Linked DNA regions of Homo sapiens: region 1 is linked to region 2. The links come from fine-mapping of genetic effects on gene expression. Tissue or cell type: liver. Region 2 holds a variant in brackets; the other region holds the start of a gene. All regions are shown on one strand. Distances are between the middles of the regions.

Region 1 (4,240 bases), 37 kb before region 2:
TGCACACCAGCCAGAGGGTCCTCACCAGACACCAGAAATGCCAATGCCTTGATTTTAGACTTCCCAGCCTCCAGAATGGTGAGAAATAAATGTGTATTGTTTTTAAGCCACCCAGTGTTGGTAATTTGCTACAGCAGCGCAAACTAAAACAAAAACAGTCTCTGCCTTCATGGAGCTTATAGATGAGAAAGGAAGATAAATATTTAAATCAATAAATATGAAATTGCAGTTAAAATAAGTACTATGAGACCAGACAAGAGGAGTAGCTGATCAAGTCAGGAAAGTAAAAAAAAAGCTTCTTTGGGGGTGACATTTGAGCTAAGCTTACATTTACTGAAAAAAAAAAACAGTAAAATTAACACGACAAAGAAGAGAAGAGTCTTCTAGGTATGAGGAAAGGCCCTGATATAGGAATGAGCATGGCAATTACAGGGGATAGAATGCCACTGTGTCTAAACTTGTCCCTGGACAAATGCATCTAGCATTTTGCATAAAATTTCAGAGACAGTGACATCCTGGGGTCCGTCCATAACCCCCAATTTTTATTCTATGGATGAACCCCAGGATGTCAGTGTCTCTGAAATTTTATGCCATAACTATGTGCATATGCCATATGACAGTGGTGGGAGGGCAAAATGGTATAACTCCTATGGAGGAGAATTTGACAACATCTAGAAAATCACATATGCATTCACCCTTTGACTCATCAATCTTGCTTCTTGGATCCTATCTCAAAGATATAGTTGCAAAAATATGAAATGGCATATGCACACAGTTATTTGCAGCATTATTTACAATAGTCACACTGAAGCACCATCTAAATGTTCATCAAATTGGGGATTAATAAGAGCAACACAATGGATTATTATGCAGATGTACAAGAGAATGAAGAAACTAGAGAGTGATCTCTAAGACACAGAATAAAGAAAACGAGGTGCTGAAATTGTATATGGTCTGTCATCTTTTGTATTAGCAACAGCAGTGGGGAAAGGAATGTGTATGTGTGTATATGTAAACATAGTCATAAAAACTCTAAAAACGGAAAACAAACTGGCACAAATGAACCTAATTCCAAATGAGGTTGATATTGGTGTCTCAACCATACAGAGAAAAGAATTATTACAACTGACTTTGGAACACAGTATCTTCACTGTATTTCTTCAGTAGGATATACCTGAAAGACCAAAACGCTACACAGACATCTCAAAGTCATTTGAAGTGAAGTTAAAAAAAAAAAAAAAAAAAGGTGCACAGACTCCTGTTGCTGCTCCAGAAGGATAAAATGTGGGAAGGGAGGAAGGGGACCATTATCCCTAAAGAGAAAACTTCTGGCCTACCAGCGGGGCCAGGTCAGGGGAGGCTCTGTCTCGGATTTCTGGGCATATCAGTGGGACCCAGGCAAGGCCTGCCAACTCCCTTAGCATGTTCCTGTCTGTGAAACGAGGATAATACCCATCTCTCCTGTGGTAAGCAATGTTATTTTTCACATACACCAATAGGCATCTTGGCTCAACATAAGAAAGCCCTTTCCCACAGAAACAGCTGCCTCCAGCGTGAAGAAGGTGCCACAGAGATGGAAGGAGATTCCTTACCCACACCTGGGAGACAGCTAGCCAGCCAGCCAGCCAACTGGGCGGGGGCACCCGGGCAGGGGTGCCAGATACAGTATTGTATCTGGCAACCTCCCGGGGCGCTCAGTGTGGTTTTCCCACCCGGGAGTCTGGAAGGGTCTCCCGCAGCCCGCAGGAGACGCAGCGCTCCCCGCTCAGGGGGAGCAGGAGGACAGCTGGCCGCTTTCGGGAGCCCCAGGCGCGAAGCGGCCTCTCTCCGCCTCAGGTGAGTCCTGCTCGACGCCCAAGGCCCAACGGTCAGAACCGCCTCTGCCCGCCGGACCCAGCGAAGCTAGGGGAACAAATCCCAAAAACAGTTCGGGCCTTTCCGGTGCGCTCACCCCTACACACGCGCCTGCTCGCCACCCAGGAGCGGCGTCCCGTTGCCAGGCAACGAGAGCTCGCGCCTCAGGAGCCAGTGTAGGCGCCGCAAAGCGGAAGGGGCGCGCGGATAGGTGAGCAGAGGGCACGCGGTGGGCAGCGAAGGGGGAACGCGCAGCAGAGAGGAGAGGGCGTGCAGGAGTAGGAGCAGGCGGCAGAGTAGAGGGGGCGCGGCAGAGTAGAGGGGGCGCGGCAGAGTGGAGGGGGCGTGCAGGAGTAGGAGCCCGCCGCAGAGTAGAGGGGGCGCGGCAGAGAGGAGGGGGCGTGCAGGCGCGGGGCGCCCGGCAGAGAGAAGGGGTCGTGCGGAAGGGGGCGCGCGCCAGGGGAGGGGGCCAGAGAGGAGGGGGCGTTCAGGAGTCGGGCCTGCGGCAGAGATGAGGCGGTGTGCAGGAGGGAGAGCGCGCACGAGGGGGCAACGGGCAGAGAGGAGAGGGAATGAAAGAAGGGGAGCGTGGCAGAGAGAAGCGGGCGCGCTCCAGGGGGCGGGGTCCAGGGAGGAGGGGGAGCGTAGGATCGGGGCGGGAGGCAGAGAGGAGCGGGCACGCGGGACGGGCGTGTGCTCGTGAGGGGTCGAGGAAAGGCGTATGTGGAGGCGCGCGGGGTGGGTGAGCCGAGGAGACTTGCTACACAGAAACCTGGAGGAGTAGGGGCACACAAAAGAGCAAGGGACCCTGACTGGCAGCCCGGCATGCTCTGGGAGAGACAAAGAGGTGGCGGGCTTTGAGGAGGAACCAGGAAGGGCAGCCAATCGGAAAAGGGTGGAAGACCTTCCAGAGTCCCTGGAAGACCGTCACTGCAAGCTGCTAATAGCTTGGCAGTTTCACAACTCTGCACCTTTGCTCTTGCTGGTGACCTCTGCTTGGTTCCTTTCAGAACCAATTCGGGTGCCCCACCACCGGGAAGCCGTCCAGTCTCCACCAGGCCCAAACCCTTGCAGTCTTCCCTGGCCTAGTCGTCTGTGCATGTGCTAGCCTTTCCTGTGCTCTCTTTCAGCTTATGGGCGGGGCAGTGCCAGGCAAGAGAGGCCTTAATAGATGTTAGTTGAGCTAGTAAATGCCAGATTGGGCGTGGAAAAATCAAAGGGAAGCATGAGGGCAGGTGGCAGAACTCTCTCAATGAATAAGTCAAGAAATATTTACAGAGCTCCCAGTGTGCCAAGCGTGGGCGGTATACAGTAAACAAAGACAACCCCTATTCTTATCACCTTGCCTACTGAGTGCAAGTCCAGGAACTGTGTAAGCAGACCCTCAGAGGAGCTCTGGGAAACACTGAAAAATAGCCTCTCCCCCCATTGGTGAGTGTACCCTAAGTTGGTCTGAGTGGGCTTTAAAAGGCATCCCCTTGGCCAGGCGCGGTGGCTCACCGCCTGTAATCCTAGCACTTTGGGAGGCGGAGGTGGGCGGATCACCTGAGGTGAGGAATTCAAAACCAGCCTGGCCAACATGGAGAAACCCCATCTCTACTAAAAATACAAAAATTAGCCAGGTGTGGTGGCGCACACCTGTAATCCCAGCTCCTCAGGAGGCTGAGACAGCGGAATTGCTTGAACCAAGGAGGCAGAGATTGCAGTAAGACGAGATTGTGCCACTGCACTCCAGCCTGGGCGACAGACCAAGGCTCTCTCTTAAAAATAAAAAATAAAAGGCATCCCCTTGACTCCTTCCCCTCCAGCCCTCAGATTATGGCTCTATGCTGGCTCTACTGTCTTTGTACCATATTTTAGCGACTGTTGGGCAAACACATTTCCTTCAGATCATTGTTGAAAATGGGCAATTTAGAGTAGGGGGAGGTATGCCAATACGGCTTGCCACATGTAACCAGTGTGGCAGCCACCCCCTGACTAGAGAATGCAGAGTTGGTGATTCTGCCTTCGGGGAAGGACAGTTCTACAGTGATCCAGGCAAAGTAGATTGGTAACTACAGGTCGCTTGGAGATTTTATTAACATGCAGGTTCTGAATCTGTGGTGGGACCTGAGATTCTGCATCTCAACAAGTCCCAATGTGTCCAGAATTGGTGGGTTCTTGGTCTCACTGAGTTCTAGAATGAAGCCGTGGACCCTCACAGTGAGTATTACAGTTCTTAAAGGCGGCGTGTCCAGAGTTCGTTCCTTTTGATGTTCGGATGTGTTCAGAGTTTCTTCCTTCTGGTGGGTTGCTGGTCTCCCTTCAGAAGTGAAGCTGCAGACCTTTGCAGTGAGTGTTACAGCTCATAAAGGCAGTGCAGACCCAAACAATGAGCAGCAGCAAG
Region 2 (4,240 bases):
CTTGAGTCCAGAAGTTTGAGACCAGCCTGAGCAACATAGTAAGACCCTGTCTCTGCAAAAAGTTTAAAAAGTAGCCGGGCGTGGTGGCACATGCCTGAAGTCCCAGCTACTCAGAGAGGCAGAGGTGAGAGGATAGCTTGAGCCTGGGAGGTCGAGGTGGCAGTGAGCTATGATCATGTCACTGCCCTTCATCCAGCCTGGGCAACAGAGTGAGACCCTGTCTCAAAAAAACAAACAAAAACACATAAAATTGTTCCTAATCATATTTAAATGGTTACAGTTCAGTAATGTTAGATATGTTCTCATTGTTGTGCAACACATCTCCAAGTTTTTCGTGTTGCAAAACCGAAACTCTGTACTCATTAAACAACAATTCCCCATTTATCCCCTCCTCCCAGCCCCGGCAACTACTGTCTATTTTCTGTCTCTGTGATTGTTTTCTTTTTTTGAGACAGGGTCTCACCGTGTTGCTCAGGCTGGAGTGCAGTGGCGCAATCATGGTTCACTGCAGCCTCAAACTCCTGGGCTCAAGCTATCCTCCCACCTCAGCCTTCTGAGTAGTTAGGACTACAGGCATGCACCACAACACCCAGCTAATTTAAAAAAAAAAATCTGTAGAGATGGGGTCTCACTATATTGCCCAGGCTGGTCTCAACTTCCTGGCCTCTAGAAATTCTCCTGCCTTGGCCTCCCAAAGGACTGGGATTACAAGTGTGAGCCACCAATACCTGGCCTGATTTTGACTACTCTAGGTGCCTCATAAGATTCCACTCTAGGTGGACTCATACAGTATTTGCCTTTCTGTGATGAGCTTATTTCATTTAGCATAATGTTCTTATGATTCATCTATGTTGTAGTGTGTGTCAAAATTTCCTTCCTTTTTAAGGCTGAATAATATTCCATTTTGTGTGTGTGTGTGTGTGTGTGTGTGTGTGTGTGTGTGTAACATTTTGTTTATCCATTCATCTGTTGATAGATACTTGAGTTGCTTCCACCTCTTGGCTACTGTGAATAATGCTGCTATGAACATGGGTATGCAAATATCTCTTCGAGATCTGACTTGGCCTTTCAGGTTTAAAATGTAATGAATTTGTTTGCATATTTTAGTACTACTTATTTTTATTTTTATTATTATTATTATTTTTTTGAGACGGAGTCTCGCTCTGTTGCCCAGGCTGGAGTGCAGTGGCCTGATCTCAGCTCACTGCAAGCTCCTCCTCCCAGGTTCACGCCATTCTCCTGCCCTACAGCCTCCCTAGTAGCTGGGACTACAGGCGCCCGCCACCACGCCCGGCTAATTTTTTCTTTTTTCGTATTTTTACTAGAGACGGGGTTTCACTGTGTTAGCCAGGATGGTCTCAATCTCCTGACCTCGTGATCCGCCCGCCTCAGCCTCCCACAGTGCTGGGATTACAGGCGTGAGCCACCTCGCCCGGCTTTTTATTACTACTTATTACAAACAACAGGGCCGGGCACGGTGGCTCACGTCTGTAATCCCAGCATTTTCGGAGGCCGAGGCAGGTGGATCACCTGAGGTCAGGAATTCGAGATCAGCCTGGCCAAGATGGCAAAACCCCGTCTCTACTAAAAATACAAAAACTAGCTGGCTGTGGTAGCAAGTGTCTCTAGTCCCAGCTACTGGAGAGGCTGAGCCAGGAGAGTCACTTGAACCTGGGAGGTGGAGGTTGCAGTGAGCTGAGATGGCACCACTGAACCCCAGCCTGGGTGACAGAGTGAGATTTTGTCTCAAAAAAATAATAATGATAAAAATTGTAAAAATTAAACTAAAAAATAAAAACAATGGCCGGGCACAGTGGCTCATGCCTGTAATCTTAGCACTTTGGGAGGCCGAGG[T/C]GGGTGGATCACGAGGTCAGGAGTTCGAGATCAGCCTGGCCAACATGGTGAAACCTCATCTCTACTAAAAATACAAAAATTAGCTGGCGTGGTGGTGGGCGCCTGAAATCCCAGCTACTCGGGAAGCTGAGGCAGGAGAATAGCTTGAACCCAGGAGGCAGAGGTTGCAGTGAGTTGAGATCATGCCATTGCACTCCAGCCTGGGACAGAACGAGACTCCGTCTCAAAAAAAAAAAAAAAAAAATGAAAACAACAACATCACCAATCTTCTTGAAGAATGAACAAATTAAAATTAACACTTCAGATGCTGCAAGGAGGCATTCATTTTAGGAAGTGTAGACACTCAAAGCTAAGATTTTTGGCATTCAATAAAGTCCTAAAGCTGTACCACCAGAAGGAGCTAGAACAGTGCTAAACTTGGGCCCTGCAGAGAGGTCTGGCATTCTGCAGTATAATTATAAACTTCAGTCACAGCATTATCTAGGAAATCTTTTCAGTAGAGATAATGGGTGTCTATTAATGTAAGTAATTTGCTGGATAAGCCATGCATTGACTTGTTGGAAAATATCAGAGATTACATGCTAGGTGTGCAGAAAACATCCTTCAAACTCAGTCCTGCGTGCTGTCCCCCTGGGGGAAATCCATACATTCTCCCTTGAAAGAAAAGTTTGGTTTTCTCTCCTGAGTAGCATGGTTGAAAGGTCTGGCTGAGAATCAGACTTGCAGACATGTTTGGAATCATTGCCTCCTGCCCCTCCCAGCACAGTGACTCAGTGGGCCGTGGGTGATAGTTAAATGATTAATATTTTAGGTGTGCCTGCTAATTGGGGTGCAGTTAATCACAGAATCCTTTTTAAAGAAAAATGTAGTGAAAACTTGGGCTGATTCATCAAAACTTTCCTCTCTGGGTTCATTTCCACAATCTGAATGTCCATCCCAGAGCAGGACATGGGACATGGTTTGGCAGGACAGCCAAACCATTCTTCTCAATACCAATCACCAAACCTTTGCCTGAGAGTGTGGATATGAAGGGCACAGCCTCTACCCTTGAGATCCTTGTGCAGGGAGGAGGCAGAGAGAGGTAGGGAGTGTGCTAATAGACATAGGACCAAACTATGGGAGCCCAGAAGTGAACTAACTCAGGCAGAAAGTGAAGAAAGGCTTTACAAAGATAATATTTGACATGGCACTGATGGATGAGGAGGAGTTTTTTTGTTTTGTTTTGTTTGTTTTGTTTTGTTTTTGAGACGAGTCTCGCTCCGTTCCCCAGGCTGGAGTGCAGTGGCGCCATCTTGGCTCACTGCAACCTCCACCTCCAGGGTTCAAGTGATTCTCCTGCCTCAGCCTCCCGAGTAGCTGGGACTACAGGCGCCTGCCACCATGCCCGCCTAATTTTTGTATTTTTAGTAGAGACAGAGTTTCACCATGTTGGTCAGGCTTGTCTTGATCTCCTGACCTCAGGCAATCTGCCGGCCTCAGCCTCCCAAAGTGCAGGGATTACAGGCATGAGCCACCGCGCAAAAGCACAAGCAAGGGCAGTCTAGGCTGGAGGAACAGCATGTGTGCAAAGGCATCCAGGTGTTTGGAAACATGTAAGAAGGGCAATGTGGCTGAATAGCAGAGGGTATGTGAGATTGAGACCTGTGAAGGCCTCTTAATGAAATGTGAGTGCTCTAGAAAAGGGCCACAGTATCCCCTAAGAATCCCCACTAGGAGCCCTGGGTGGATCCATCCCCATTGCCAGCCACCCTGAGTATGCACAGTGTCTAATCAAAGAGAAGCCACAGGTCCAAGGGTGGAGAATAGGCGTCACTTTGCAGGCTACACGAGGGCCACTTTCATGGCAACTATCAGGGGGACAGGAACTCTAAATCACAAGACAGGAGACCCTGCCAGGCAAAAGCTTGGAGCTGATGTCCCCTCTGCTGAGGCTGAGGTGAGTGTGGAGAATGTCCACTTCTCAGGTCCTTCCTGCAGAAGCCCTGGCCACTCCAGCCACCTGAGGCTCACCAACATGCCTGGGATGCAGAAACAGTATCTTCTGGCTCCACACAGCTCTCTAGGTGTCCTGACAATGTGGCTATGAGGGGATGCTGTTGATCATTTATGACATCAGCAAGAGAACAGCAGGTAAGGTGCCTGGAGGCAGGTCAGAGCCTTTTGTCTTCTCTCAGAAGAACTGGCTGGTGGCAGCAGGGTGTTATCCAAAACAAGTTATTGATGGTTTGGGAAACAATGCTTTTTATTGTCCCAACCAACTCTTCTATCTGGGACACATGCTATCCTGAATGAGACACCAGGAAAAGAGACAAAAATTTGAAGTGTGTTAGACAAACCTAGACTCTCTCTACAATGCTGTTTTCCTCTAAATACTTTTAGACGAAAA

Direction of the effects. Positions count from the first base shown, and alleles are read on the strand shown. Sizes are in standard deviations (SD) of each study's normalised expression.
In carriers of allele C in region 2, the expression in liver of the gene that starts at base 2,021 in region 1 tends to be higher than with T alone (moderate effect, 0.57 SD a copy in GTEx).

The links. PIP is the estimated chance that this variant, and not a neighbour inherited with it, causes the effect. A credible set is the group of variants that fine-mapping cannot tell apart.
Region 1: DYDC2 starts here. The variant in region 2 is the best candidate, but not a certain one, in a credible set for the expression of DYDC2 in liver (GTEx, PIP 0.58).

Annotation. Positions count from the first base shown.
Region 1 is chr10:80,354,761-80,359,000 of GRCh38, forward strand. It overlaps DYDC2 (DPY30 domain containing 2), which reads left to right and starts at 2,021. Exons shown (of 5, transcript NM_032372.6): 1 at 2,021-2,065; 2 at 3,133-3,285. It overlaps DYDC1 (DPY30 domain containing 1), which reads right to left and starts at 1,995. Exons shown (of 7, transcript NM_001269053.2): 1 at 1,952-1,995.
Region 2 is chr10:80,392,107-80,396,346 of GRCh38, forward strand. No RefSeq gene overlaps it. Among named protein-coding and RNA genes, the nearest start is that of PRXL2A, 14 kb to the right of the region's middle. The variant T/C (reference allele first, on the strand shown) is at 1,855.